6 separate regions of the Homo sapiens genome follow, and regions 1, 2, 3, 5 and 6 are each reported to be linked to region 4. Evidence: microRNA targets listed by miRTarBase, many of them from high-throughput screens and not tested one by one. Region 4 holds a microRNA gene; each other region holds the end of a gene's coding sequence.
Evidence for each region. The annotated mature microRNA hsa-miR-6499-3p reads AGCAGUGUUUGUUUUGCCCACA and lies in region 4 at 3,694-3,715, shown strand. An mRNA with a match to its seed (bases 2 to 7 or 8) in the 3' UTR can be bound and repressed. Matches are read on the target gene's strand: a 7mer-m8 pairs with bases 2 to 8, a 7mer-A1 pairs with bases 2 to 7 and ends in A, and an 8mer does both.

Region 1: the mRNA of KRABD2 is a reported target of hsa-miR-6499-3p. Seed matches in the 3' UTR shown: 7mer-A1 at 1,472-1,478, 7mer-m8 at 2,428-2,434, 7mer-A1 at 2,560-2,566, 7mer-A1 at 2,724-2,730, 7mer-A1 at 3,387-3,393, 7mer-A1 at 4,095-4,101 and 1 more.
Region 2: miRTarBase lists LRRC51 as a target of hsa-miR-6499-3p. Seed matches in the 3' UTR shown: 7mer-A1 at 523-529, 7mer-A1 at 693-699, 7mer-A1 at 853-859 and 7mer-A1 at 1,300-1,306.
Region 3: the mRNA of TMPRSS12 is a reported target of hsa-miR-6499-3p. The part of its 3' UTR that is shown has no 7-base or 8-base seed match.
Region 5: miRTarBase lists NDRG3 as a target of hsa-miR-6499-3p. Seed matches in the 3' UTR shown: 7mer-A1 at 1,316-1,322 and 7mer-A1 at 2,001-2,007.
Region 6: the mRNA of CNDP1 is a reported target of hsa-miR-6499-3p. Seed matches in the 3' UTR shown: 7mer-A1 at 978-984 and 7mer-A1 at 2,168-2,174.

Annotation. Positions count from the first base shown.
Region 1 is chr17:8,364,990-8,370,166 of GRCh38, reverse strand. It overlaps KRABD2 (KRAB domain containing 2), which reads left to right. Exons shown (of 2, transcript NM_001304947.3): 2 at 1-5,177. The coding sequence ends at 1,033. Among named protein-coding and RNA genes, the nearest start is that of KRABD2, 9.1 kb to the left of the region's middle.
Region 2 is chr11:72,095,224-72,100,223 of GRCh38, forward strand. LRRC51 (leucine rich repeat containing 51) reads left to right here. Exons shown (of 6, transcript NM_145309.6): 6 at 156-1,672. The coding sequence ends at 297. The region is part of intron 5 of LRTOMT (leucine rich transmembrane and O-methyltransferase domain containing); the gene reads left to right. LAMTOR1 (late endosomal/lysosomal adaptor, MAPK and MTOR activator 1) reads right to left here. Exons shown (of 5, transcript NM_017907.3): 2 at 3,888-4,033; 3 at 3,558-3,635; 4 at 3,066-3,192; 5 at 2,069-2,691. The coding sequence ends at 2,599. Among named protein-coding and RNA genes, the nearest start is that of LAMTOR1, 5.6 kb to the right of the region's middle.
Region 3 is chr12:50,886,788-50,891,964 of GRCh38, forward strand. TMPRSS12 (transmembrane serine protease 12) reads left to right here. Exons shown (of 5, transcript NM_182559.3): 5 at 475-1,097. The coding sequence ends at 726. Among named protein-coding and RNA genes, the nearest start is that of TMT1A, 36 kb to the right of the region's middle.
Region 4 is chr5:151,520,626-151,525,802 of GRCh38, reverse strand. It overlaps MIR6499 (microRNA 6499), which reads left to right and starts at 3,655; the gene lies at 3,655-3,716. It overlaps FAT2 (FAT atypical cadherin 2), which reads left to right. Exons shown (of 24, transcript NM_001447.3): 18 at 1-35; 19 at 3,717-4,527. It also overlaps a transcript of SLC36A1 not described here. RefSeq lists an enhancer at 3,650-3,819.
Region 5 is chr20:36,649,181-36,654,357 of GRCh38, reverse strand. NDRG3 (NDRG family member 3) reads left to right here. Exons shown (of 16, transcript NM_032013.4): 16 at 657-2,587. The coding sequence ends at 838. Among named protein-coding and RNA genes, the nearest start is that of SLA2, 5.6 kb to the right of the region's middle.
Region 6 is chr18:74,583,786-74,588,785 of GRCh38, forward strand. CNDP1 (carnosine dipeptidase 1) reads left to right here. Exons shown (of 12, transcript NM_032649.6): 12 at 711-3,427. The coding sequence ends at 777. Among named protein-coding and RNA genes, the nearest start is that of ZNF407-AS1, 12 kb to the right of the region's middle.

The DNA.
Region 1 (5,177 bases), not on the chromosome of region 4:
GAAGAAGTCATCACGTGATTATCGCCGTGCAGCAAAATATGATGTGATCTCTGTACAGGGCACAGAGAAACTGATAGAGGCTACTCATGGAGAACGTGATCGAATACGGTATTATGTACATAAGGAAGAGTTGTTTGATATTCTTCATGATACACATCTCAGTATTGGACATGGTGGGCGGACACGCATGCTCAAGGAGCTGCAAGGAAAATATGGGAATGTCACCAAAGAAGTTATTGTCTTATATCTGACTCTGTGTAAACAGTGCCACCAGAAGAACCCAGTACCCAAGAGAGGCCTTGCACCAAAGCCCATGACTTTTAAGGACATAGACTCCACATGCCAAGTTGAAATACTTGACATGCAGTCCAGTGCCGATGGTGAGTTCAAGTTCATTTTATACTACCAGGATCACTCAACCAAGTTTATTATTTTACGGCCATTAAGAACCAAACAGGCCCATGAGGTGGTCAGTGTCTTGTTAGATATTTTCACAATTCTTGGTACACCCAGTGTGTTAGACTCTGACAGTGGCGTTGAGTTCACAAACCAGGTTGTTCATGAGCTCAATGAGTTGTGGCCAGACCTAAAGATTGTATCTGGTAAGTACCACCCTGGCCAAAGCCAGGGCTCCCTGGAAGGAGCAAGCCGTGATGTAAAGAACATGATAAGTACCTGGATGCAGAGTAACCACTCATGTCACTGGGCCAAAGGCCTCCGATTCATGCAGATGGTGAGGAATCAGGCTTTCGACGTTTCCTTGCAGCAAAGTCCATTTGAGGCAATGTTTGGCTATAAAGCCAAATTTGGGCTATATTCCTCAAACTTGCCCCGGGAAACTGTGGCTACTTTACAAACGGAAGAAGAGCTAGAAATTGCTGAAGAACAGCTAGAAAATAGCCTTTGGATCAGGCAGGAAGAAAGGGCTGAGATTGGAGCAGACAGATCTGATATGGACGATGACATGGATCCCACTCCTGAAGCTTCAGAACCCAGCACCTCACAAGGGACTTCCGGTCTCCTCTGCTGGTGAACAGATGGCTGCTGGGTGGACAGTCACAGGTGTCTCTCTGAGCATAGTCATCTGAGAACTGTTGCCAGAGGCCCCAGAGGAAAAGATTGAAGGCTGCACTCTCAGGTCAAGTTGTACATGGCAGTCCTTGCTCAAAAAGACAAAAGTTCAGGTCTGTGTATTTATTCTTAGGGCTGCCATAAAAAATTACCACAACCTGGCCGGGCGCAGCGCTCATGCCCGTAATCCCAGCACTTTGGTAGGCCAAGGTGGGCGGGTCACTTGAGATCAGGAGTTCAAGACTAGCCTGGCCAACATGATGAAACCCTGTCTCTACTGAAAATATAGAAATTAGCCAGGCTTGGAGCTGTGTGCCTGTAATCCCAGCTAACCAGGAGGCTGAGGCAGGAGAATCACTTGAACCCAGGAGGCAGAGGTTGCAGTGAGCCGAGACCATGCCACTGCACTCCGGCCTGGGTGACAAAGCAAGACTCTGTCTCAAAAAAAAAAAAAAAAAATTACCACCACATGGGTGACTTAACAGAAATTGAGTCTCACAGTTCTGGAGGCCCAAAGTCTGAAATTAAAGTGTTAGTAAGGTAGGTTCTTTCTGGAGGCTCTGGGGGAGAATCCATTCCATGCCTTTCTCCTTTCTCTAGTGGCCATCGGCAATCCTTGGCAGTCCTTGGCTTGTGACAGTGTAAGTCCAGTCTCTGCTTCTATCTTCATGTGGCCTTCTCCCCTGAGAAGGCCATAATTTTTTATGGCAGCCCTAAGAATAAATACACAGACCCGAACTTTTCCCTTATTAAGCAAGGACTACCATATACAACTTGACTTGAAATACACAGGAATACCTGTGTGTATTCTTTCCTGTCTCTTGTAAAGACATCACTGGACACCAAATCCATGTCACTGGATTTAGGGCCCACTCTAATGAGGATGATCTCATCTCGAGATCCTTACCTTAATTAGATCAGCGAATACTCTTTCCAAGTAAGGTGACATTCACAGGTACTAGGGACCTGAACTTGAACTTATTTATTTATTTTTTTTTTCATTTTTTTAGAGATAGGGTCTCCTTATATTGCCCAGGCTGGTCTCAAACTCCTGGGCCCAAGGGATTGGCCTCCCAAAGTGCTAGGATTACAGGCACACGCCACCACACCCAACCAGGACTTTTTTTTTTTTTTTTTTGCTCTTAACTTTTTTTTTTTTTTTTTAATTGATCATTCTTGGGTGTTTCTTGCAGAGGGGGATTTGGCAGGGTCACAGGACAATAGTGGAGGGAAGGTCAGCAGATAAACAATGGATTAAGGGCGGTGCAAGATGTGCTTTGTTAAACAGATGCTTGAAGGCAGCATGCTCCTTAAGAGTCATCACCACTCCCTAATCTCAAGTACCCAGGGACACAAACACTGCGGAAGGCCGCAGGGTCCTCTGCCTAGGAAAACCAGAGACCTTTGTTCACTTGTTTTTTTTTTTTTTTTTTGAGACAGGGTCTCGCTCTGTCACTGAGGCTGGAGTGCAGTGGCACAATCTGGGCTCACTGCAGCCTCTGCCTCCCCAGTTCAAGCAATTCTCCTGCCTCAGCCTCCCCAGTAGCTGGGACTACAGGCGTGCACTGCCACACCTGGCTAATTTTTTTTTTTTTTGGAGACAGAATCTCACTCTGTCGCCCAGGCTGGAGTGCAGTGGCATGATCTGGGCTCACTGCAGCCTCCGCCTCCCAGGTTTAAGCGATTCTCCTGCCTCAGCCTCCTGAGTAGCTGGGACTACAGGCACGCACCCCCACGAACCCAGCTAATTTTTGTATTTTTAGTAGAGACGGGGTTTCACTATGTTAGCCAGGATGGTCTCGATCTCCTGACCTCGTGATCCACCTGCCTCTGCCTCCCAAAGTGCTGGGATTACAGGCGTGAGCCACCACGCGCGGCCAGACTTACCTTTTTAAGAGACACACTTCTCATTGTAGTCAATAGAAGTATATGTCTGCAAAACAAGAACTGATGGATGAGGTCTCAAGAATGTAAAGCTGGTGGGACTGCCCTAGATATATCTAATACATATTCCTGCCCCTCAGACACATACTCTAAAACATGGAGGCATCACAGGAAAATAAGTAGATGAAGGAAGGCTGGGCACGGTGGCTCATGCCTGTAATCCCAGCACTTTGGAGGCTTAGGCGGCCGATCACTTGAGGTCAGGGGTTCGAGACCCGCCTGGCCAACATGGTGAAACCCCGTCTTTACAAAAATGCAAAGTATTAGCCGGGCACGGTGGCATGCACCTGTAATCCTGGCTACTCAGGAGCCTGAGGTAGGAAGATCCCTTGAACCTAGGAGGCAGAGGTTGCAGTGAGCCGAGATCATGCCACTGCACTCCAGCCTGGGCGACAGAGCAAGGCTCTATCTCAGAAAAAAAAAAAGTAGATGAAGGAAAAGTAATAGGAAGAAACAAGGTTCATCTAAGATGCCCTAGAGACTGGCCACCTTACCAACTGGGCTCTGTTTCCCGCTTCAGGAGAAACTGTATGTGCCATCCCTTTTCTCAGAGCATTATGCACAGATAATTGTGTAACTGCATGAAACATATATTAAAATTAGGTCAGAAGTAAAGTATGGTTGGAATTTGGGTATGCGTCTGCCACTTGTCTGTGTCTCAAGCACTTAAAAACATATCCTATTCCTGGCACAGTTCAGTGCATTTCGGGAAGTGACCAATAGTCAGGGAAATAATCAAGGTTTCTGGAACAAAATGCAAGAGTTGGCCTGAGATCACTGCTCTACCTAGAGAGGAGTAGGGCAAGGCCAGTCTGGGCCATGATTCAGAGTAAGGATGACTGACCCAGCCACAGGGGAGGACAGTGCCCAGGACCTGTGTACTCCTATGTTCCCAATGCCTAAGAGTGCCCAGCCCATGGAAAGTGTTCAGTGAATTTAATGAATAAATGATTCTACAGAAATGGGCACGGGGAAGGAGAAAGGGCCTGCAGTCTTTTATTTTTATTTTATTATTTTTTTTTTGAGATGGAGTCTCGCACTGTCGCCCGGGCTGGAGTGCAGTGGCCACAATCTTGGCTCACTGCAACCTCCACCTTCCAGGTTAAAGCGATTCTCCTGCCTCAGCCTCCCAAGTAGCTGGGATTACAGGCGCCCGCCAACCACGCCCGGCTAATTTTTTGTATTTTTAGTAGAGATGGGGTTTCACTATGTTGGCCAGGCTGGTCTCGAATGCCTGACCTCATGATCCGCCTGTCTTGGCCTCCCAAAGTGCTGGGATTACAGGCGTGAGCCACTCGCCCGGCCGGTCTTTTATTCTTCATACAAGTGTCCTTCCTGCACATCCCAGAGCTATCTAAGACCCATTCTGATCATCACTAATGCCAGTTCCCTCTTCTGTAAGGGGCAGTAACACCCCTGGTGCTGCCTACCTCACAGGATTGTCCTGAGAGACCAGCGAGATTCTGCATGTGAAGGGGCTTTCTCTGAATAGTGAAGTTCTACAATGTGACTCATCTTTGCGGACCCTGTCCTCCACGTGAGGGTGGGAGACCTCTGCTCATTGCCATTTCTTTTCAGATTCTGCAGTGTTAAGTTGGAAGGTTTCCACGGAAGCCACATTATTATTACATAGGAAGTGACATCACTTTCCAGCTTGTTTTGGGGGGCCAAAATCTTGCTATGTTCTTGGCCAGCACCTCAGTTTCCATCCTCCTTCCAACCCATTGTCTTTCTTTGTAACTCTGCCTAACAGGTCTGGGAGGTCCAACTTTGACTGAGGATGTTACCTTCCCCTCCCCAGTGCTGACCTCCTCCCTCCTAGTTACTTGGCATACCGGGAACCACATCATCAACTCCTGTGGGTAAAAGGTGACACATGAGCCATAACACTGCTTGCTTTCCCAGAGATGCCTGGGTTTCCAGGAGCTGCCACATCACTCTTCCTCTTTTGCATCTTAATGTTGGCAGTGGGAAAGAGTTAGAGGTGGATTCCTGGACCCAGTCTGGCCTGCATTATTTCAGCATGTGGAATAGAGGTCACTAACCGGTGTGCCACAGGCTAGTCTCAGCTTGCAAATGTATTTTGTCCACATAATGTTTTTAATTTTTTTTTTTTCTAAACAGAGTTTCGTTCTTGTTGCCTAGGCTGGAGTGCAATGGCG
Region 2 (5,000 bases), not on the chromosome of region 4:
AGCATTCCTTGCTCTCAGTCAGGATAAACCTAATCTTTCCCAAACTATGCTCAAGTCCCTCCATTCCTTGCAGTCAGGGAAGACAACAGCAACTAGTGGAGGGGGAAGGGGATTCTGGTGGGGGTGCTGGCCCCCAGCCTAAGTCTTCCCCACAGGCAATATGTGCTGTGCACCCTGTCCCGTATCACCACGTTCGACTTCAGTGGGGTCACCAAAGCAGACCGCACCACAGCTGAAGTCTGGAAACGCATGAACATCAAGCCCAAGAAGGCCTGGACCAAGCAGAATACACTTTGAGGCTCCCACGACCCTAGTAGTCCTAAAGGCCTAAGCATAGACAGCATGGTTTGACAATAAATAATTTGAGCTGTTGAGCAGATGAGAAGTCACTTACACCTTGTAGAGATGTTCTCTAACTCAGGCAACTGCAAGTAGCTCTAGCCTTTTCTTTTCTTTTTTTTTTTTTTGAGACGGAGTCTCACTCTGTCACACAGGCTGGAGTGCAGTGGCACGATCTTGGCTCACTGCAACCTCAGCCTCCCAGGTTCAAGAGATTCTCCTGCCTCAGCCTCCCCAGTAGCTGTGATTAAAGGCGCCTGCCACCATGACTGGCTAATTTTGTTGTTGTTGTTGTTGTTTTGAGACGGTTTCACTCGTCACCCCAGCTGGAGTGCAGTGGTGCGATCTCAGCTCACTGCAACCTCCGCCTGCTGGGTTCAAGCGATTCTCCTGCCTCAGCCTCCTGAGTAGCTGGGATTACAGGCGCCTGCTACCACATCCAGCTAATTTTTTTTTTTGAGACGGAGTCTCGCTCTGTCACCCAGGCTGGAGTGCAGTGGCACGATCTCGGCTCACTGCAAACTCCGCCTTCCAGGTTCACGCCATTCTCCTGCCTCAGCCTCCCAAGTAGCTGGGACTATAGGCACCTACTACCACGCCTGGCTAATTTTTTGTATTTTTAGTAGAGACGGGGTTTCACCATGTTAGCCAGGATGGTCTCCATCTCCTGACCTTGTGATCCACCCACCTCGGCTTCCCCCAGCTAATTTTTTATATTTTAGTAGAGACAAGGTTTCGCCATGTTGGCCAGGCTGGTCTTGAACTCCTGACCTCAGGTGATCCGTCTGCTTTGGCCTCCCAAAGTGCTGGGATTAGAAGCGTGAGCCACCACGCCCAGCCTTTTTTTGTATTTTTAGTAGAGATGGGGTTTCGCCATGTTGGCCAGGCTGGTCTCAAACTCCTGACCTCAGGTGATCTGCCCACCTCAGCCTCCCAAAGTGCTAGGATTACAGGATAAGCCACTGCACCTGGCCAGCTCTAGTCTTATTTTGCTGAAAAAGGGAGGCAATTGAGGGAAAGGCCTGCTGGCCTGGGACACTGGAGACGTGGGTTTACCACACAGCCTTGGGAAATTTATCTAACTCTCTGGGCCCCTTTGTACTTTTCAGCTTAGAGATTTGGGGGTTAAAGTAGATCAGTAATTTCCAAACTCTTCACAGAGTACCAGGGTCTGTAGAGATGCCTCACAGGCCTCCATGACAGGCCAAGAAGATGGCCTATGATCTCTGAAACCAGCCCCCACTTCAATCAGATCAAAGTAATTCCATTCTGTTTTATATGCTGGGATTCTGCTTAAGATTTCATTTGATAAAAAGAATCTTCTGCTTAAAAACATTTGCTTGCTGACTCCATATTAGGTATTCCCAGAAGAGCCTGGTCTGCTTTCTCTCTCCACCCCCCAACCCGCCATGTCTCCCTTCACCCCCAGGGGCTGTTGGTAATTCCATTGAGTCTGAGGCAGGGCCCCCAAGAATCAAAGCTGCCTCAGATTCAGGTCTGTTCAGCTTTGACAGTGTTCCCATCATCACTGGACAAGGGACAAGAACAGTCTCATCCAGTCTGAGGTTAGCCCAAGCCAGGTCTCAGCTAAGAGCTGACACCCTAAACCCTTGTCTCTTGGGTTCATCTTCAATATCCCTGGAAGATGTCCCCTTCCCCCCATCTTACTCTCATAGACCTAAGTAATCAAAAGTAGAATGGGTAGAACAGAGGGGCCAGAACCAGCACATGGATGAATATACTTCCTTTATCGAGGGTGACAAACCAAAACAAAAAAAGACCAAACATGTAAAAACCCAGGGTTCTAGAAATACAAACTCAATTCATTCAAATTCAAGCTCATCCAGACCCTGGTCACAAACCCTAGTGAGGTGCATGTGAGCACCAAGTCAGGGAGAGGGGGCAGGAGTGACTCTGAGGCCAACAGAGAGGGTGGGAAGGGGATCTCCCTAGGTCCCCTGGTGATCACCCCCCACCCAAACTGGTATCTCCACATTCTCAATGACTATGAAGACATACCAGGCTCTGTCCTTTTGGCCCCCACCCCATCCCTGGCCAGAGCTTCAAAGGCCAGTCCCAAAAGGTTCTACCCTCACTTGCTCAGGCTTCTAGCCTTCCTCTTCTCCTCCTTCTTCACATTTTTCTCTGTGATTAGTAGCAGGTTAGGGTACTGTATAAGCCGCAGTGAGGCTGGGGGCCAAGGGGGTGGGGTAGAGATGGGATGAAGAGAGGAGAAGAGCTGTCCAAGGACCCCTCTCTTCATGGGATCCCAAACTGTACAACCAGCTCCTCTTTTGCGTCCACACGGATCTGAGAAAGTGCACTGTAGGCATAAGCAGCTATCCTGGAGACCTGAGACAGAGAGGGGCCGGGGAGGAGAGGAACAGAGACAGGTGAGGAGGGCAATCAGGAAAAATGGGGAGGGGAGATTAGATGGTGATGGAGAAGGAGGGAATGAAGGGGAACAGGAAGGCAAAGAGAAAGACAGGGATGGGAGAGACAGAAGGAAAAGAACAAAGGGGAGTGAAACAATAAAGGTTGCAGGAAGGAGATAGGAAAGACATAAAAAGTTAAGAGAACGAGGTGGGAGGGAGCTGGGGCCTACAAGGCTACCAGGCTCCCTAACTCCACCTTCCCTACCTCCTCTGAGGCAGAGTGGGTGAACCCTCTGCCATACCCTGGGCAGTGTGAGAAGGGTGGGCAGGGGCAGGTGAGGGGTGTCTCACCTGCTGCAAATCAGAGAACGGGATGGGCTCACTGGCCAGCACTTGGTGGGGCTGGCTGGTAAGAGACGGCAGCGGTGGCAGCTTCTTCCAATGGGTCAGGCTGCTGCTCAGCACAGCCAAGCGGGTGCTGACCAAGAGAGAGGGGGTGGGGGTAGGCAGTTAAGCCACAGTCTGCCCTGCCCAGCCCAGGTAAGCCTCATCCCCTCAGGCCAGAGAAGCAGGGTGTCGAGGAGGGGTATCTGGGAGGGAAGGTCTCAGCTCATCACAGACTCAATCTAGGCCCATCTCCCTTGGCCTCAGCGCCCTCAAGAGTGTCACAGGGTAAACAGGGCTGACATGAATAACTACTGAAGCACCCAAGTGATCTGTGGTCAGTCTCCAGGGCTGCACCAAATGAGAAGCTTGGACTAGGGGCCAGGCTCCAAAGCTGGAACAGTGATGGAGGGTGGGAGCCCAAGTAGCCTGAGGGACCCACGCTGGCCAGGTGCTCACCTGTACTGCCTGGCACGGTCCATGTACTCATGCTGCTCCATGCCCTGTGAGTCTGCAGCAGACACATCAATGATGTTGCTATGGGGAGAGGAGACAGAGATGACATGACAGGTGCTTCCGAGAAGGACAAACAGGACTCAGTGCCAGGTACCAACTCCAGGGCTATCTGACACCAGTTTCCCTCCTGCCTACTGGAGCAGGGCTGGACATGGAGGCACCTCTCCCCAGTGACCTTGTCCCATCCCCCATGTCCTGAGCCTGGCTCCTTCTATCCTAGCCTTTAATATGGATAGAGGAGCTCTGACCCAGGCCTGGTCCTCTGACACTTACCTGGCTGTCTTGGCAAGGATGGAAGAGAGCAGGGCCTGCTCATCAGTGCGAGCGGAAGGCAGGCTGTGGTAGTTGGGCTCGGCTCCATTGAGAGCTTTGGTAGGGGGGCTGCTAGGGTCCAGCAGCAGCTTCCGCTCCTCTCGGTCCTAGAAGTGGTCATGGGAGAGAAGTCAGCCCCAGGACCCGTAGATCCTGCCTTTCACGGGTGCTACCCTTAGCCCAGCTCTGACCTTAAACACCAAAAATGTTTCTATAAGGAATATCTAAAGTGCCCAGCTTTATGGAATGCCAGATAAGACTCAGTTCCTGCCTATCCTTGGGAGCTCAACTGAGTTGGTGTTCTAGGATAAATGAGAGTGGAACCAGGCAGTCCTAGAGGCCCTGAAAAAATGGACAGAGGCACAAAGCAGGTAGTCAGCAACAGCCCTGGAGCTTGAAAAACATTCTAGGACCTGGCAAAGAAAGGATACTAGAGGCTGGAAGACAGTGGAGCTGAGACATAGCAAGCACTGGGATCTAAAGGGGAAATCAGTGCAAGTCAAGAGCCCAAGAACAGCCTTCCTCATCCCCTAGGACCAGGCCTTCCCCAGCAAAGCTGTTCGCTTCCAAGATGGAAGCCCTGGCGAGTCCAGACAAAGCCCTAGGCCCCAAGAGAAAGCAAGCCCAACCTCTCCATGGCCATTTCTCAAATTATGTCAGGGCAGGAATCCCAGCCCAGCTCTGGGTCACACAGTACAAGTGTGTTCCCTTCTTGAAGGCAGGTCCCTTCGAAGGTGTTCACCCTCCTGTGCTCTGGTGCTCTTTTTGTACGTGACTCCCAGAACCAAACTGAGTGTACATGGTGTATCCTGATCTGAGCAGTACAGCTGTAGCCATGTATGGTGATTCACACCAGTAATCCCAACACTTTGGGAGCCCAAGGCAGAAGGATTGCTTGAGTCCAGGAGTTTGAGACCAGCCTGGGCAACAAAGCAAGACCTCGTCTTTGCAAAAAAAAAAAATTAGCTGGACTTGGTAGTGTGAGCCCTGCAGTCCCACCTACTTGGGAGGCTGAAGTGCAACGACTGTATGAACCCAGGGTTTGAGGCTGCAGTGAGCTAGGACTGTGCCACT
Region 3 (5,177 bases), not on the chromosome of region 4:
TCTATTGCAAGATGCCAGTTTACTCCTCTCCCTGGCAAGCAAACCACACACGTGCCTAAAAGAATCCTTCATACATCTTAAAGTTATCCTTTCCACACGCAGTATTCAGCAAGAGAATATTCTAATAATAGACAGTTTTGACAATATTTTGCACACTTCCTAAATTATATTTCTCCTAAGTAATTATATTTAAAAATCCAAACAATTTGATTTATAGTATTCTGGCTCAAAACCAGGCAGATGAGAAATTTATCTACCAGCTATATGGTTCCTCCAAATACCTGGGTAAAATTGAATTCCTCCTGTTTGAGTTGGAAGTTTAAGCTCAAAATCTAGTGATCTTTATAAATTGGGGGTATATTGAAAATGTGTATTTATATAAATGTATGTTTGATGTAAATAATTTATTCCAGTGTTACTGTTGCTTGAAGAATACTAGAAGTAACAAACACTATTTTGGGACTTTTTTGACAGGGTGACAGTGGGGGACCATTAATGTGCTACTTACCAGAATATAAAAGATTTTTTGTAATGGGAATTACCAGTTACGGACATGGCTGTGGTCGAAGAGGTTTTCCTGGTGTCTATATTGGGCCATCCTTCTACCAAAAGTGGCTGACAGAGCATTTCTTCCATGCAAGCACTCAAGGCATACTTACTATAAATATTTTACGTGGCCAGATCCTCATAGCTTTATGTTTTGTCATCTTACTAGCAACAACATAAAGAAATTCTGAAGGCTTTCATATCTTTATTTTGCATTGTGTCCCTTTCTATGTTCTATATAATGAACATCATTTATTCTTCTAGCAATTAATTGCCTACATTAGAGATTTCATGTGAACATTTTATGGGCTATAAGTATTGTGACAGATATACAATTGTAATTTTGGCACTGAATCACATGTCTCCTTGAAATATCTTGATTATTTTATAATCATAATTCTGTATCTGGAATACTCATAGAGTTTGTACAAAATATTCAGTTAAACATATATTTTATGTGTATAAATGCCAAATAATAGTTTATAATTAAAATGAAAGCTGTCATTTGGTTAAATTAATAAAAATTCTTTCTTAGATTTTATTCTAAAAAATGTTTGTATGATTTTTTTAAATTATAATCTTGTTTCCAATTCTCAAAGTATATTTAGAGAAACAAGTATTTATCTGTTATTTAAATTCTAATTAAAACCATTTATTTAATATCAGTACTTCATTTCCTCTGCCAAGAGAGCTATGGTATACACACCCCCAAATAATTTACTTTTTATTTAGAAATTTATGACTTTTTTTCAGGAGTATAACCTACTTTCTAAACTTTATTTTCTTGAAGCCCATGCTAAAATTTTGTATCCCATGGGGCCTCTGAATTAACTGTGAGCAGCAACTGGAAAGCATGCCGGGTAAAAGAGGGACGCCAACCTGGGATAAACTTTATGATAACTAATGTATAAAATGAATTAAAAGAAACAAAAGAAAATGAGGGCCAGGCATGGTGGCTCTCACCTGTAATCCCAGCACTTTGGGAGGCCGAGGTGGGCAGAATCACTTAGGTCAGGAGTTCAAGATCAGCTTGGCCAACATGGTGAAACCCTGTCTCTACTATAAATACAAAAATTAGCGAGGCATGGTGGTGCATGCCTGTAATCCCAGCTACTTGGGAGGCTGAGGCACGAGAATTGCTTGAACCCGAGAGGTGGAGGTTGCAGTGAGCCAAGATTGCACCACTGCAGCTTGGGCGACAGAGCTGGACTCTGTATCATACACACACAAAAAATGAAACAAAAGAAAATGTTGATTGAATTATATCTACTATTAGTCAACTCTCATTTCCCTTGAACTTAGGAGAATCCATTTAGCAAAGGAGAAATAGTTATTTTCTTATCCTTCTTTTTACATTCAACATCTAAAACCAAGTGTTCTTTGTTGTTGTTTTGTGTCAACCTAATTTCAGGATTTAAATGAAATTAAGCATGAATATCCCATGTATTAATTTCTTTCATTACTGGTTTGACACTGGGATTATTGTTTATTGGTTTAATATTGGGTTAATGTTGTTTAATATTAACATTTAATATTGGGTTAATATTGCTAATATTGGGATATTGTTTATTGGTTTAATATTGGGGTTATCTATCCCACTCAAGGAATATATGACTATGCTTTTTATAGACGAAGCAACACTGATGGAATGTTGGTTGTTCTTTCTTGAAAGAGCTCCTAGTTTATCCATCGACAAGGTCTCACAGATGGTAATGCTTATATAGCAATTAGCATGATGCACTAGTCTTTTCCTATTTATACTACCTGAATATCACTCAGATTCACTTGAAAGCTCTGAATGTTAATAAAAAGAAATTCTTCTAAAATGTACTGCCAGAATTAGAGGAGAAACCTTTGCTTTTCACTTTAAAGGCATCTTCTAATTACTCTTTAGGTTTACGTTTCTTATCTATGTATTTATTTTGGAGGTGGAGTCTCTCTGTTGCCCAGGCTAGAGTGCAATGGCACAATCATTGCTCCCTGCAGCTTCAATCTCCTGGGCTCAAGCAACCCTCCCACCCCAGCCTCCTGCATAGCTGAGACTACAGGTGTACCCCACCACATCCAACTGTTTTTGCATTTTTTGTAGAGACAGGGTTTTACCATGCTGCCTAGGCTGATCTTGAACTCCTGGGCTCAAGTGATCTGCCCACCTCAGCCTCCCAAAGTGCTGGGATTACAGGGGTGAGCCACCACTCCCAGCCTAGGTTTACAATTCTATTCTTTTTTTTTTTTTTCCTCCTTTTAATTCTAATCTCATGACAGATTAGATTACATTTCTGATCGGGGAGAGCTATTATCTGCTATTTATCTTTTTGCCCAGCTTAGTTTACTATGTCAGCCAGCTGGAATCCAATTATAAAATTTCTCTCTATCACAAGAAACTACCAGAGTATAAACTTTGGAAATCTAAGACAGACTTTGTTTCAACTTTTGTTTTAACATTGTGTCCTTTTTTTTTTTTTTTTTTTTTTTAAGAGGCTCTGTCACTCAGGCTGCCTAGGGTGCTGTGGCATGATCATAGCTCACTCCTGGGCTCAAGAAATCCTCTGGCCTCAGCCTCCCAAGTAGCTAGGACTATAGGGCCCAGACCACCATGCTCAACTAATTTTTAAATTTTTCATAGAGATGGAGTCTCACTATATTGACCAGGATGGTCTTAAACTTCTGGCCTCCAGCCATCCACCCACCTCAGCCTCCCAAGGTACTGGAATAACATACATGCACCAAGTTGCTTGGCCTTTGTTTCCATTTTCACTCTGTTATTTAGTATCTATAAAAGTTTAGATAATTATTAATACCTATTTACAACATTGTTGTGATGACTACAAAAGTTGAGTATATGAAATTCTTAACATTTGAAAGATGCCAGTAACAGGTTTCTATTATTATATTAATATCCCATCTATCATTCACACACTCTTTCTCATTACAAAGATCACTATCCTATTGGATGTCTCATATATCATCCCCCAAAATTACTGAAACAAAGGATCCTTTTCTGCTTATAAATTCAAATTTTAAAATATGCTATTTTAAAAATAATTTTCATAATTCCCCAAATATTATATCCTTATTATTTAAACTGAGAAAGGGCCAAGCATGGTGGCTCATGCCTATAATCCCAGCACTTTGGGAGGCCAAGGCAGACAGATAGCTTGAGCCCAGGAGTTTGAGACTCCTGGGTGAAACCTCGTCTCTACAAAAAATGCAAAAATTAGTCAGGCATGTTGGCATGCGCCTGTAGTCCTATCTACCTGGGAGGCTGAGGTAGGAGAATCACCTGAGCCCAGGAGTTCAAGGCTGCAGTGAGCCGTGATCACACCACTACACTCCAGCCTGGGCAACAGAGTGAGAACCTGTCTCAAAAATAAATAAATACATAAATAAAATTGAGAAAGCACCGACAAGTAGAAAGAAAATCATCAGCTGAGCGTGATGGCTTACACCTGTAATCCTTGGGAGGCTGAGGTGGGGACAGATTGCTTGAGCCCAGGAGTTCGAGACCAGCCTGGGAAACATGGCAAAACCCCATCTCTACAAAAAGAATTAAATTAGCCAGGTGTGGTGGTATGCCTGTAGTCCCAGTTACTGCGGAGGCGGAGGTGGGAGGATGCTTGAGCCCAGGAGGTAGAGGATGCAGTGAGCTGAGATCATGCCACTGCACTCCAGCCTGGGTGACAGAGCCAGACCCTGTCTCAGAAGAATGAAAAGAAAATCATCCATAACCCTATTATGTAAAGACAGCTGCCATGAAATCCTACCTTTTTCAGTTACTATAATGGGTATTTTTACAAACCTTTATTAAACATTATTTTACCCCAACTATTTTGAAAAATTTCAAACCTACTGAAAGTTGAAAAATAGTACTATGATTACCTGTATATACTTTACCTTTTTCCCCCAAATATTAACATTTTGCCGTTTACACTCATACTCTCTCTCTCCAAACACAAACACACACAGACTTACACAGACATATTATACACACACAAACTCTCTCTCTTTTGTTTTCTGGTTGAAAAATTTGAAAGTAAATTGCTGGCATCATGTTACTTCATCCCTAATACTTCAGCATGTATCTCCTAAGAACAGTGACATAATCACAACACCATCATCACACCAAAGAAATTTAACACAGATTTGTTCTATTTTATAAATTGTGCACTCATTTCTTTGGTTTATTAATCTATTGCATAGATATTCCATTATTTTATATTGTTTCATTCTGATTATAAAAGTACAGTATATGTTCACTATAAAGAAAAAGCACAACTATTACAGAAACTATTTGGGCTGCTATAACAAAATATAATAAAATGCTGGCTTATAAACAACAGAAATTTATTTCTCACAGTTCTGGAAGCTGGGCAAGGCGCCAGCTATTTCGGTGTCTTCTGAGGTCCCACTTTCACCTTCACAGAAGGCATCTTCAAACTGTGTCCTCACATGGCAAAAGGGGCCAGGCCACTCTCTGGAGCCACTTTATAAAGGAACACTAACCCCATTCACGAGGGCTCCATTCTCATAATGAAATCACCTCCCAAAGGCCTCACCTCCTAATAGCATCACATTGATGATTAGCTTCCCAACATGAATTTTAGGTGGCCACAAACATTCAAATCATAGTA
Region 4 (5,177 bases):
GGAGGGCTCAGGAATGGTATCAGCTTCAGATCCAGGTGAGAGCTGTGCTAGGCTTCTGGTGGTGACCATGGGGACAGTAAAGATGCTGGCAAAAGCCCCACCAGTGCTTCTGTCATTAGGGAAAAAATGTACAAAGCACTTAGGATGCATCAGGCACTGGGCTAGGTCCTTCTCAGGACTAAAGCCTCATAACACTCAGGGCAGGTATAGTTACCACCCCGCTTTACAGATGAGGAAACTGAGGAACACAGGGGATTTAAGTGACTGGCTTAAAGTAATACTGGTAATAAGTGGCAAAGGTGGGTTGCTTCAAACCCAAGCACTCTGACCCCAGACTCCAAATTCTTAATCCCTGCTCTGTGCCTGGGCAAAACACCCTCTGGCTGTAGCTCCTAGAGCTTAGCCAGAACAGCTCTCTGAACCTCAGGAGCTAAAACAACCTACCTCAGAGAACTGGCTTGGGGCTCAAGTGAGATATTGTATGCACATGTGTGTAGGGGATTCTGGTGGTGGTGTTATGGGTTTCATAGGAATTGCTAAAGAACAGTGGCCAAGATGGTGGTCTGATATCTCTCCCTCACTTTATTTCTCCAAATCTCTTTCCTAAATCTCAAGTCCAGTGGACCCTACTATTCTGTAAACTTATGGGCTGGGAATGATGTATTCATTCTTTCAGTCAGTCAGTCCATCTCTCGACAAGTATTTATTGAGCATCTACTACATGCGAGGCCATTTGCAAGCTGCTAGGAACATAGCAGAGGGTAAGGAGGGAATGATTCCTGTCTCCAGGGGCTTTCCATTGTAATCATGGAGATAAACAATAAACAGATAAAGAAAGAAATAACATCTTTACAAATGATGATAAGGAAGTAAAGTGATGAGAGACTCATAAGACAGGGGGACACACATTCAGAGGGAGGCTGCCCCCAGGAGGTGACATCTGAGCAGAGAGCCAAGCTGCCAACCATGTGAAAAGTGGGCAGGAGAGTCTTCCAGGCAGGAAGAGCAACATGAGTTGGGAAAGAGCCTGAAGTGGCTTGAGGTATGGCTGAGGTACTGAGAACATCATGAGCAGGGGTGGGAATGAGGCTGAGGAGATAGGCTGGGTAGATCATGTGGGCCTTGTGGCTTGGATGACTGTATTATCTGAGGTCCAAACTGTGATCTTTGAGAGTGAGAGAAGCACTGACTTAGTCCATTTGGGCTGCTACAACAGAACACCATAGGCTGGGTGGCTTAAAGGACAGAAATGTATTTCCCACAGTTCTGGAGGCTGGAAGTCCCAGATCGGGGTGCCAGCATGGCCAGGTTCTGGTGAGTGCCCTCTTCTGAATGGCAGACTGTCGGCTTCTCATTGTATCACATGGCCCTTCTCATAAGGGCCCTAATCCCATTCACAAGGGCTCCACCTCCAAATACTGTTACACTGGGGATTAGATTTTAACATATGAATTTTGAGGGGACACAAACATAGAGTCCAAAACAGGCACTAAAAATAATACTTGGTAGTAGCTGATTTACAACAGGTAAAAATCAAGACTGTCCTTGACAAACCAGGGCATCCAATCTTCTAAGTATAAGCCTTGGTAACACTTTTAGATTCTAATCTAAGTACAATGAGAGGTGGTTGGAGGGTTTCAGACGGAAAAGGGATCCTCTTTGTGTCTCAGGAAGCTCATTTTTCAAGCTCTATAGAGTGGGTGAGGGAGACCAGTGAGAAGTCATCCAAGCTGGAGATAGTGGGGCTGAGACCACGGAGTGATGGAGAAGATGCAGGAAGCGGAGAGATTTCGGACATATTTTGTATGTAAATTGATAGGAGTTGGTGGAGTGGATGTGCAGTTAGAAAGAACAGAGACGATTCAGGGGTGATTTCTAAATTGTTGGCTCCCATGAAGACTTCGGTGGTAGTGCATTTATGAGACTGGAAAGGCCCAGACGGGAAGGCAGGACAGGTTTATGGGCTAAACCGAAGCTCTGTTTTGCACATTATTTCCCAGTTGTTTGTGAGACATCCAAGCAGAGGTGTCCAGTGGGTAGCTGGGAATTGGAGTTGGCAGCTCAGAGGATTGGTAGATGGCCCTCAAAGCCAAGAGCATGGATGTGATTGCCTAGGGAGAGATGAGAGAGAATGGCTTCCTGACCTCTGTATTCTCAGACCCAGGCACACGTCCTGCCTAGACAGGAGCTTAGTAATGACTGGCATCATCACCATCAATTGCATTGGTCCCGTACTTCCACTTCCATGCACTGGGAGGCACCATAGGCCAGCAAAGAAAAACACAGGCTATAGACACAGATAGGTATTCAGATTCTGCTCAGGCCTTATCTGCTGCTGTATGACCTTGGGCAAGTTACTTCACCTCTTTGAGCCTCAGTTATATTTTTTGTAGGATGGGTGACTTGATAGTACCTATCTCATAAGAAGGATAAACTAGGATAATGTATTTACAGCATTATCATAGTTTATCTATGATAATGACTAGCATTGTACTCAGTTAATGTTAGCTATGTATTATATATAATCGGTAGTAGTAGTATTGTTGTAACTAATGTTAGCTATACATTATAATTAACAGTAGTGTTAATTATTATTGTTGCTATTAATATCTCTTCGGTGTTATGCATGACTTCCAGCAGTAGGTGTAATCTTATCAACTTTCTTGTACATTAAAAGTGTTGGAGTGCAGGTGAACAAGATATTACTACAGGGAAAATTGTGGAGACCCTCGTTGACAGCTGAGGAAGTGATAACATCACTGAGGAGAAGAAGGCAAGCCTGTCCTTTCTAAGTCAGGCAGGAAGTTGCAGGGATGTGTGGTGAAACATGAAAGGAAAATGCGTTTATGATTTACATTCTTTTCCCTACTTAAGTGAGGTCCTGTCACCCTCACGGCTTTTCACAGTTCTGACATTAACTGCAACCCTGCGCGTGCCAGCCCATCAGTGAGGTCAGGCCTGCTTCCCTGCCCACTTGCTCCAGCACCAGTGACCCCGTCTGTGCTGTTGAACACACCGCCTTCATTCCTACCCCAGGACCTTACACTTGCTGCTCCCTCTGTCTGTCGCCTCTTCTTCTCATCCCTCAGGACTCAAATGTCACTCCACAGAGACTCCTTCTCTTCTACCTGATCAAAGTTAGGTCTCTGTTTATTTCCTTCCCAGCATTTTATCCAAGTTATTTGGTAACTTATTTATTGTCTCTTTTCTCCTGGCCACAGCAGAAGACTTCGTTGACTGACTAGAAGGACAAATCCCGACTCCCACTCCAATCGCATAGCAAAAGGGAATCCCAAGGGGAATTTTCGTAGGCTGAGCAGGGTGCATGGTGCATCAGAATTGCTGAGACATCTGAGGGCGCCCTTGAGGACAGGGACAGAATGAGAAACTTCATGAGGAAGTTAGCCCAAGTCTATGGCTGGAGAGATTTAGGAAGAGGCTCAGAGAGATGTCACATGAGGAAACTGCATTGTTTTACTGCATGGTATAGGATGTAACTCCCTCCTTCAATCTCTACAAAACCTTCAGAAAATCTTTCTTTTCTGTCAGTGCTTTTGGAGTTAGGTTTTTTTTTTCTAAATGCAACAATGCGCTGAGCCAGCCCTCAAGTTGGGCGTGGGGCAGAGAAACGTAGCTCCACAAGGAGGCCCAGCCTCAGTCGGGCGCAAGAGCACTGCAGTTCTGTTGGGTGACAGCAGTGTTTGTTTTGCCCACAGGCGTCAGACAGTGGCATCCCTCCCCTCTCGTCTTTGACGTCTGTCCGTGTCCATGTCACAGAGCAGAGCCACTATGCACCTTCTGCTCTCCCACTGGAGATCTTCATCACTGTTGGAGAGGATGAGTTCCAGGGTGGCATGGTGGGTAAGATCCATGCCACAGACCGAGACCCCCAGGACACGCTGACCTATAGCCTGGCAGAAGAGGAGACCCTGGGCAGGCACTTCTCAGTGGGTGCGCCTGATGGCAAGATTATCGCCGCCCAGGGCCTGCCTCGTGGCCACTACTCGTTCAACGTCACGGTCAGCGATGGGACCTTCACCACGACTGCTGGGGTCCATGTGTACGTGTGGCATGTGGGGCAGGAGGCTCTGCAGCAGGCCATGTGGATGGGCTTCTACCAGCTCACCCCCGAGGAGCTGGTGAGTGACCACTGGCGGAACCTGCAGAGGTTCCTCAGCCATAAGCTGGACATCAAACGGGCTAACATTCACTTGGCCAGCCTCCAGCCTGCAGAGGCCGTGGCTGGTGTGGATGTGCTCCTGGTCTTTGAGGGGCATTCTGGAACCTTCTACGAGTTTCAGGAGCTAGCATCCATCATCACTCACTCAGCCAAGGAGATGGAGCATTCAGTGGGGGTTCAGATGCGGTCAGCTATGCCCATGGTGCCCTGCCAGGGGCCAACCTGCCAGGGTCAAATCTGCCATAACACAGTGCATCTGGACCCCAAGGTTGGGCCCACGTACAGCACCGCCAGGCTCAGCATCCTAACCCCGCGGCACCACCTGCAGAGGAGCTGCTCCTGCAATGGTAAGTACTACATCTTCCCTAGGGACGAGCAGCACTGCTGGGCTCAGCCCGCCTGACTCTAAGCATGGAGATTCCACTGAGGCTCTGTGGGAGAGTTCAGGGAAGTTTTAATAAGCCCAAAGGCCACCAATCACCATAAGACGGCTAGTGGCCTCACAAAATCTAGTTATGGAATAATACCCAATTCTCAGCTCCCTTTCGAGATTTAGAAAATAACAGTAAGACTACAATATGTGGTTTAACATCATGGCTAAGAGCATAGGCTGTGGCTTCAGTCTTCATGGGTTAAAATCCCAGCTCTACCCCTTACTAACCAGGCGACTTTAGGAAAATTAACCTCTCTGTGCCTTTGAGCTGGGCTGCTGTAGGAATTACATCAGTACTATGTATCAAGTGCTTGCTTAGAACAGTGCCTGACATATAGAAAGTGGTCAATACATGTGAGTTACTAATACTGCTACTATTATTACCATAGTCTGGTGGTTATAAGCTCAAGGCTTAGACTCAGACAGCTCAGGTTCAAACCCTAGCTCCATCAGTCACTAGCTGTGTAACTTTGGGTGTATTGTTAAAACCCTCTGAGCTTTTTAGTTTCCCATCTATAAAATAGTCAAAATAAATACATCTGCCTCCTGGAGTTGGGTTCGGGG
Region 5 (5,177 bases), not on the chromosome of region 4:
GCTATGCCAGGTAAGGCCCAGTCCCAGCCAAGCTGGAAGGACCTTAGAGTCAAGCAGTGGCAGAACAGGAGTCTGAGTTAAACACCTGCTTCTCTGTCCCTGGCAACCTGTACCTCATCCCTGTGTTGAGGTCAGCTCCAAGCCAATCTGCCCTCCCCTTCACCTGCACCATCCTACAAATCTCCTCCCTGGTAGCAAGGTAGCCTGTGGACACGGATGGTAGTCTCGTTGTATCGGGCTTGCACTGTGTTTGTGAAACACCTTCATACTTGTGTGTGTGTCTTTCTTTTCTTTTGGTTTAGTCTTGCATGCACTGTAGGTTTTGGTTACCTGTTTGGGTTCCCAAAGCCTCCATTCTGTCACTGTCTGAATGGTGTGGGCATAGTTAAGAGGCTATACTCTGGATTTAGGGTTTCCCCTTGTTCTGCGGTGACTACAATCAGCTGAGATTCCAACCAGATCTAAAGGATTAAAGTGGCCTCACATATCGCCACTCACCTAGAGCAAATGATACAAAATGGGGATGGCTATATCTTGTCCTGGGTGTCATGGTAAATGAGTCGGAAAAGCTAAACATAAAGACTTTGATGAGACTCCTAGGTTAGCTGGGCTTAACCGGGGCTTCATCTTCTAGTCCCCTTGGTTCTCTGTTACAGTACCATCTGCCAGCATGACTCGGCTCGCCCGATCACGAACCCACTCAACCTCGAGTAGCCTCGGCTCTGGAGAAAGTCCCTTCAGCCGGTCTGTCACCAGCAATCAGTCAGATGGAACTCAAGAATCCTGTGAGTCCCCTGATGTCCTGGACAGACACCAGACCATGGAGGTGTCCTGCTAAGCAGATGCTCCTCCCCTGGACCATTGCAAGTCCATCCTTCAAATGACCACTCCATAATATAACATTTCATCCAGTAAACTGGCCTCTACTATCTTTAACTCATGCATGGCCACTGAACCTCTCTCTAGTAGCCTGGATTTATCATTCTCTCTGCCTGCCCACCCCCTTTTTTGTATAGCCCAAGAACCACTTCCATGCCATACTGTAACATTCCAACATCTTTAGCTGATCAGATCTCTCCATATCCTCTCTTGCCAGCTTTTTCCCGTGCTCCCCCAACTATGTATCAGATAAGATTCTTTGATCCCGACTCTGTGTGTGCGAGCACGCGTGTCTGTGTTTGTGTGTGCATAGTTCTGTGGTTTTAGACACGCTTTCTTGTAGTGCTTCTGCAAAAAACAAAAAAGGGACTTATTTTGCATTCTCAATGGTGTTTTTAAGGGAATTAGGCAGAACAGATTTCTAGGTTGGGTAGGCCACTGCATTCTCTTTTGTTTGCAAATTGGTCAACAAAATTTGCAAAGTGATTTCAGGAGAGAGCAGCTTTGAGGAATGTGGAAAATCATAATTGCCGTCTGGACCATTGATTGATTGTGACCAGTAGCAGAAGGGTGCCTGTTACATAGAGAGGCTCCTTCTGTCCAAATGAATTTCTGTATACTCTTCTATAAATAAAAGGGAGGAATATATTCTGCTGGAAGCCCATGAACCATCGCTGAGGTTCTGATACAACATAGAGTTTTTTCCAAGGAGTGAATGTGGTTTAATTACTGGACTCTCTTAGCACAGGAAGGTGGAAACAAAATGCCAGGCCTCTGCTCTGAAGAGCAAAACTGCTGTCGCTGCAGTATCTGATACCAGACATCCACATATCCACAAGAAGTGCCTCTTAGGTCTGTGACAGAGAGTGTGTCTCCATTCCTCAGTTCCCAGAAAGGGGAGAGGTTTGGCCTAAAAAGCATGTAGATGGGGGAGAAATGGGTGGGGGGAGAGGAACAGCCATTAACACAGTATCATGTTTAACAAGTATAGCCTTGATTTCAGTAGATGTAATGGAAGCCAAATTAAATTGATACAGAACCCATTTCTCAGAGTCTTTTTTTTTTTTTGAGACAGAGTCTCGCTGTTACCCAGGCTGGAGTGCAATGGCGCAAACTTGGCTCACTGCAACCTCTGCCCCCTGGGTTCAAGCGATTCTCCTGCCTCAGCCTCCCGAGTAGCTGAGACTACAGGCACCTGCCACCATACCCAGCTAAGTTATGTATTTTTAGTAGAGATGGAGTTTCACCATGTTGGCCAGGCTGGTCTCAAACTCCTGACCTCAGGTGATCCACCTGCCTCAGCCTCCCAAAGTGCTGGGATTACAGGCATGAGTCATTGCTCCCAGCCATTAGAAAGATTGTTAATCCTATGAACTCCCTTTTGTAGGAGAGAAAGGGCCAATCTGTAGGGGTAGCCCTGTCCAGGTAAAGTTGTTTTCAGCCTCATGTCTACTGTTAGGTGAGGGAGTCACAGCCAGACAGAGAGTATTGCTGGAGGGTGAGAGAATTGTGGAGACCAACTACCACATAGCAAGAGCCCAGCTCTTGGGAGCATTGAGATGTAAGCTCAGGGTTACACAGTTCCAAATCTTGGGAAGGGGCTTTTCAGACAGACTGTTTGCTTTCTGCTGAGATAAGGAATGCATCACTCTGCCAGAGTATGACTTTTTACAGATTATTAAATAAAGCTGCATATGTCTCATTGTTACCTGATTGCTGGTGTTATTTCTTTCAAGCCATTCACTGGGGTTCAGGGCAGGACCGAGTTGCTGTATGCTGGTTCTGTGTTGCCATTTTCACATGTGATTGCTTATCCACCAAGCGACACTGTCCATTTATAGGAGGAAATGAAGACTGATGATAAATCATTTGCCCAAGGTCATGCAGCCAATAAGTCCAGCCAGGATCAAATCCCAGGGAATTATGCAGAATTCTATCTGATGTGTCTGTATTTCCCTCAAGCCAAAAATCGTGAGAAGCCTGACAGTGTTGTTTGTGATGGAGGAGGAGAAGCTGAGGTCTTGAGAAGGTGGTCCACGTCACAGCTCCACCACCTGTGTGGGATTGCTGGGTTCCACCTCTCATTTTAATAATCTGCAACCACTTGTCTTCTAAGAGACCAGCTTGTGTTTCTCCAGAAATGGCTATATTTGTACCCATCAAGAATAATTTCAGACCGAGTGCAGTGGCTCACGCCTGTAATCCCAACACTCTGGGAGGCCAAGGTGGGCGGATCACCTGAGGTCAGGAGTTAAAGACCAGCCTGGCCAACATGGTGAAACCCTGTTTCTACTAAAAATACAAAAATTAGCCAGGCATGGTGGTATGTGCCTGTAATCCCAGCTACTTGGAAGGCTGAGGCAGGAGAATCACTTGAACCCGGGAGGTGGAGTTTGCAGTGAGCCAAGATCACACCACTGCACTCTAGCCTGGGCTACAGAGCGAGACTGTCTCAAAAAAAAAAAAAAAAAAAAAAGCCAGGCATGGTGGCTCACGCCTGTAATCCCAGCACTTTGGGAGGCCAAGGCGGGCGGATCACTGGAGGTCAGGAGTTCGAGACCAGCCTGACCAATGTGATAAAACCCTGTCTCTACTAAAAATACAAAAAAAAAAAAAAAAATTAGTCGAGCGTGGTGGCATGCACCTGTAATCCCGCTACTCGGGAGGCTGAGACAGGAGAATCGCTTGAACCCAGGAGGTGGAGATTGCAGTGAGCCAAGATTGCACCATTGCATTCCAGCCTGGGTAACAAGAGTAAAACTCCGTCTCCAGAAAAAAAAAAAAAAAAAAAAAAAAAGAATAATTTCAGAAGACCACCATCTCAGATGAGTTTTCAGTAACCCGGGGCAAGTGCCAGCAAAAGTGCATGTGGATTGCTACATCTGTGACAGGCACTCGTAAAAAATGACATGAACCACCGGGCGCGGTGGCTCACGCCAGTAATCCCAGCACTTTGGGAGGCTGAGGTGGGCAGATCACGAGGTCGGGAGATCGAGACCATCCTGGCTAACACAGTGAAACCCCATCTCTACTAAAAATACAAAAAATTCGTCGGGCGTGGTGGTGGGCACCTGTAGTCCTAGCTACTCAGGAGGCTGAGGCAGGAGAATGGCGTGAACCCGGGAGGCGGAGCTAGCAGAGAGCGGAGATAGCGCTACTGCACTCCAGCCTGTGCGACAGAGAAAGACTCTTGTCTCAAAAAAAAAAAAAAAAAAGACATGCCCATTCTGGCAGAGGAGTTGAAACAAATGCATATGAACAGATAAAGATTACCAGGCTGAAGCCTTACAATGCAGGCCAATGCTCCACAGAATGCTGACATGGGAAGGAACTGATCTGATGGCCTCAGTTGCCTTTTTTTTTGTTTTTTGTTTGGTTATGTTTTGTTCTGAGATGGAGTCTCGCTCTGTCGCCCAGGCTGGAGTGCAGTGGCATGATATCCACTCACTGCAACCTCCTCCTCCTAGGTTCAAGCAATTCTCCTGTCTCAGCCTTCTGAGTAGCTGGGACTACAAGCATGTGCCACCACGCCCAGCTAATTTTTAGTAGAGATGGGGTTTCGCCATGTTGACCAGGCTGGTCTGGAACTCCTGACTTCAAGTGATCTGCCCGCCTCAGCCTCCCAAAGTGCTGGAATTACAGGCATGAGCCCCTGCGCTGGGCCCTTTTTTTTTTTTTTTTTTTTTTTTTTTTTGAAACAGTGTCTCACTTTGTCACCCAAGCTGGATGGCAGTGGTGTAATCATAGCTCACTGCAGCCTCAAACTTCTGGGCTCAAGCCATCCTCCCACTTCAGCCTCTTGAGGAGCAGGGACTACAGGCATGCACCACCATGCCTGGCTAATTTTTTATTTTTTGTAGAGACAGCATATCACGTTGTTGCCTAGGCTAGACTTGAACTCCTGACCTCAAGTGATCTTGCCTCAGCCTCCCAAAATGCTAGGGTTACAGGTGTGGGAATCAGCCCTTTATTGAGCATCTATATATAGGCCAGGCCCTTAATGCCTTCCTATAAATTTCCTTCTATTGATCCAGTGAGATACATGCTATTCCCATTTTATAGATGCAGAAACAGGTCCAGAGATAACTAGCTTGTAAATGGTCACAAAACTAGTAAGTGGCTATATGGGAAACAGTTTCCTCCACTACACTCAACACTTCCAACACTGCTGTGACCAAATGTGTGAGCTTTTTTCCCATATACCAACCAGTTCTCCAACACCCCAGACACTGAGTAGGTGTCCTAAATTACCACACCAGCTTCCTGGAGTTAGTACAGACCCTACAGGTTAAGGGTTC
Region 6 (5,000 bases), not on the chromosome of region 4:
CTGTTCAATTTATGTGAGAATGGAAAATCGTCCAGACTGGGAGCTTAAAGAACAGACATTCATTCCTCACAGTTCTGGAGCCTGGATGCCCTAGATCAGGTGCCAGGCCATTTGGTTCCTGGTGGGTATGGGCTGTCTTCCTGGCCGTCCCTGCGATGGTGGGGTTAGGTGGTTCTGGTGTCTCTCTTTTTATAAGAGCACCAGACCCATTGGATTAGGACCCCCATTTTAACCTCATTTAACCTTTATTATCTCCTCCAGGCCCTGTCTCCAAATACAGACACACTGGGGGGTTAGGGGTTCAACACAGGACTTTGAGGAAACACAAATATTTAGTGCATAACAAAAAAGGCTATTAGGAATGTTTGCTTTATGCGCTACTGGCAGATACTACAAGATCTCCTAAGCATCCCAGACTACTGAGAAACAAGAAATTGTTTGACCCTGATATCCATATCAGTGATAAGAAATCAAGGAAAATTCACTTTTGGATTTGAGTCTAGGACTGATTCTCATCTTCTTAATAATAATAATGCAATTTTCACATGGAACTTACTAAGTGCTTTTCATACTGGGATCTCAGAAGTATGTTAAATAATTTAAATGGAATTTATAACATCAAATCTTCCTGTCTAAATGACAGAATATTTTTCCTCCTTCATTTGAATGGAAATTGTAACAAAATTTCTCTTTGTTTTTCCTCTTCTTAGGTGGAACTACATAGAGGGAACCAAATTATTTGCTGCCTTTTTCTTAGAGATGGCCCAGCTCCATTAATCACAAGAACCTTCTAGTCTGATCTGATCCACTGACAGATTCACCTCCCCCACATCCCTAGACAGGGATGGAATGTAAATATCCAGAGAATTTGGGTCTAGTATAGTACATTTTCCCTTCCATTTAAAATGTCTTGGGATATCTGGATCAGTAATAAAATATTTCAAAGGCACAGATGTTGGAAATGGTTTAAGGTCCCCCACTGCACACCTTCCTCAAGTCATAGCTGCTTGCAGCAACTTGATTTCCCCAAGTCCTGTGCAATAGCCCCAGGATTGGATTCCTTCAAACCTTTTAGCATATCTCCAACCTTGCAATTTGATTGGCATAATCACTCCAGTTTGCTTTCTAGGTCCTCAAGTGCTCGTGACACATAATCATTCCATCCAATGATCGCCTTTGCTTTACCACTCTTTCCTTTTATCTTATTAATAAAAATGTTGGTCTCCACCACTGACTACAATGATTTCCCCATGGATTCATTTTCAGAGGAGTTACTAAGGCATGGTACTATATTAACCTCTTGCCTCCCCTTCATTTATTTTTTCCCACTTCTTGAAAAGTTCCGAAGCTGAAATGATCAATATTCATACCCATATGCCATTTGGGAGTCCTTGTGCAAAGATGAGTATTTTTTTTTTTATTCCAAGCTTCTTTACCTTTCCTGAGATCGATGCCACCTTGTCAGCTTCTCTGCCTCCCGTTCCTTCTTCCTGTCCCATCAGAAAAGGCCCACTCTCTCTCTATCCAACATCTGTGCACAGGTTGCACCAGAGCAGAATTTATCCTGATAGAATTTCTCTCACCCCATTGAAGTTTTACTCAATGACAACATCTAAATTGCTCAAAGCTTTTAATAGCATCAGTTTTAGATAGAGAACTAATCAACCCTGACATCAGTAACACACGCTAAATTTAAAGCCATCAGCTAATGCTGCATTCATTAATCATTTTAGTTAACCATCATGTTTGGCTTGATTGGATTTGACGGTGTAAACAACAAAAAAAGACAGTCATTTTTCTACAGTTGAGTGTATATAAACAAAATCAATCTTTATGAATTTATTATTTAAATCACATTAATGGAGAATCATTTAGGGGCTTATTAAAATTTTTTTCTATTATGACTCCAAATAAAAACAAAGCAGAGGGCCAGGCGCGGTGGCTCATGCCCATAATCCCAGCACTTTCGGAGGCCGAGGTGGGCGGATCACCTGAGGTCGGGAGTTCGAGATCAGCCTGGCTAACATGGTGAAACCCTGTCTCTACTGAATATACAAAATTAACTGGGCATGGTGGTGCATGCCTGTAGTCCCAGCTACTCGGGAGGCTGAGGCAGGAGAATCGCTTGAACCCAGGAGGCGGAAGTTGCAGTGAACTGGGATCATGCCACTGCACTCCAGCCTGGGCGACAGAGTGAGACTCCGTCTCCAAAAAAAAAAAAAAAAAAAAAAAAAGCAGAACACATTTGCGTTCAACTTTTTTCCATCACTCTGTTGGTTCTTGAGATGTCAGTGTCAGTTTAAAAACGTGCTGTACCACCTTTAAAAGGACTGGAGCAGGCAGGCAGTGATTCAGTTCACCTTGACTCTAGTCATAGAAGTGGACCCAACTGAGAGCTCAACCTAGTTGTGGGCATTTGTGAAGGATTCCAGTTAGTGTTTTCTTTGGAAGCAGGAGGCTTCAAGCCATCACATCTCCAATTCTATAGAATATCAAGTCATCGTTAAAGAACAGCAGCAGGTGTTTGATATTTTGTGCTATTAAGTGTAGTTTGCGCTCATCTAATTATGCAGAGTTTCGTGGTGTTTCTCGATTTTGTTGAACCTACCTGATGCATTTGGCACTGTAGATAAGGACTAACAGTAAGAGAGATTTAGAGTCTTCATGTTAGTCCATTAACATAAGTTTATTATAAAATACACTGTAAGCATTTCTGGCTAATGTACCATCAGATTTAAGAAGTTACCCAACAATATGTATTCGCTGATCTTCATTCCTGCTGAATCTGAGACCAGCAGTGTCTCAATTATTACGTTGCTGCCAGGAGAGAAGGGGAGGAGAATGAATAGTTATGGAAGTTGTAGAATCTAGGATATTCCAACCCTGGATTGCCAGAGTTCAGAGTCCATGTTTTTCTGTCACCCAGGGTCACGACTGGTCTCCCCAGCTCTTCCCTCCTGTTTTTCCACCCAATTCTAAGCCCTGTGGTGATCCAGACCCTACCCTGACGTGGGAGTCAGAAAGGAGTATCTTCCAAGCTCCTTGTACTCAAAGGGATAAAAGAAAGCTACTCAGTTGTTATTCAGATATATTAACCAGCCATATGGAGGCAAAAAAGGGAGAAATTTAAATATTTGTTTTTTAACATTTTAATGATGAAATATATGCACTTGGACAAAAATGATCACCCAGTAAAGTTGGGCGTACATTGTGGCATGCCCATCAGGGGGACTTTGTTGTATTGGAGGAGGGCAATGTATCTGGCTTTGTTAGTAGACGTAGCGCATTAAAGCGTAACTATTGTGATAAGTTTAGGGGTTAGGAATATCATTTGAGTTTGGTAGATGCTTTTCTGGAAAACAATGAGGCTGGGAATGTTTCTGGCTTTATGTTGTATTCATAAAAATAAAATGTACTGGCTTGGAAACTTCGGTGATTGTGTGCCAGACAGTGCGAGAGCCCTGGTCAGTGACACTGTTCCTTTGCACTTGCTGCTGGGAGAAGGGAGTGAGCGAGGGCTCCCCCGAGGGCTTGCTCCCGGACACTTCTCACTGTTCACACTCATGCTGGGAACTCCGTGGCCTTTGTACTCGCCAGATGCCCATGACTCCCAACCCAGCCCCCTCTTCCGAGAATCAGGCCCACCCATCTTCCTGCCCATTTCACATCTGAAACTCTACTCACCTAGTATGAAAACTTCCATCCATTCCTCGAGACTGTTACCCCTCTGGTGCTCCCTACCTTGGTAAGTGGACCATCGGCTAGTTGATAGCAGAGCCCTGCATCGTCTTCCACACTTCCCTCTCTTTCCAATGCAATTCAATATCAGGGCCAGTCCAGCCCGTTTCTCAAAAGCCACCACTTCCTTCTAGTTCCACTGTCACCTCGCATAGCTCATAAGCCAACACTCTTCAGTTTTGCTGGGTTATTGCAGAGGCCCCTAACCAGCCACTGCTTACACGACAGCCCCTCTCACTGTACATGCCATGCGGCAACTGGCTTGTCCCTCTCACCCTGCTTAAAGCTCTCAACTGGCGACATGGTCTGAGGATGAAGTCAGACATCCCAAGAAGGTCTACAAGTCCTGCTCAACCTGCTCTCTGCTTACTCTTCTGGCTTGCTCTGCCCTCACTAGATACACCCTGACAACCCCATCCTTCAAATCCTCCCAGTTTCGCAAACATCCAAGAGCTTCCCTGCCTCAGAGCCTTCTCAGAGTCTCTCCCTCCTCCAGCAACACCCTTACAACCCCCTTGGTGTCACTAATACCCCTCCCACCCACCCTCCACATTATTCTTCAAATCTCAGCTTAGTCGTAATTTTTCAGGGAAGCTTTTTCTTATTCCTCATGAGTAAGTGAGGTGTCCCTATTATGCTACCATAGTCTCCATAGTTCCTTTGTCGCATTTATTATCATTGCCATTAAATACTTAGTCAAGTACCACATACTGACAATTTGGCCAACAACAAACATATATGACAGTGGTCCCATAAGATTACAATACCATATTATTACTGTACCTTTTTCTATGTTTACCTACATAGATACTTACTACTGTGTTGCAACTGCCTACAGTATTCAGTACAGTAACACACTGCACAGGTTTATAGCCTAGGAACAATAGGCCACACCATGCTGCCTAGGCGTGTAGTAGGCTATGCCATCTAGGCTTGTGTGGGTACACTCTAGGGTGGCTGAAGATGTCCAGACACGCATTTCTCAGTATCCCTGTTAAGTGATGCATGATTGTATTTCTACAATTTGAAAACTGCCAGCTCTCCTGCTAGACTGTAACATCTTTACAGGCAGAGATTGTCTGTTTTGTCTATCCTGATGTCTTGAAGGTTCCAGGCATACTGTATGTCATTAGGAAACATTTAAGTGCTGAAATGAATGATTTCAACATTTGTATCATCCATTCTCATGCTGCAATGCACACTCATGATTTCTGTGCATCTCTCTCCCTCCTATTAAACTTCACGCTGTATAATATTAGCGA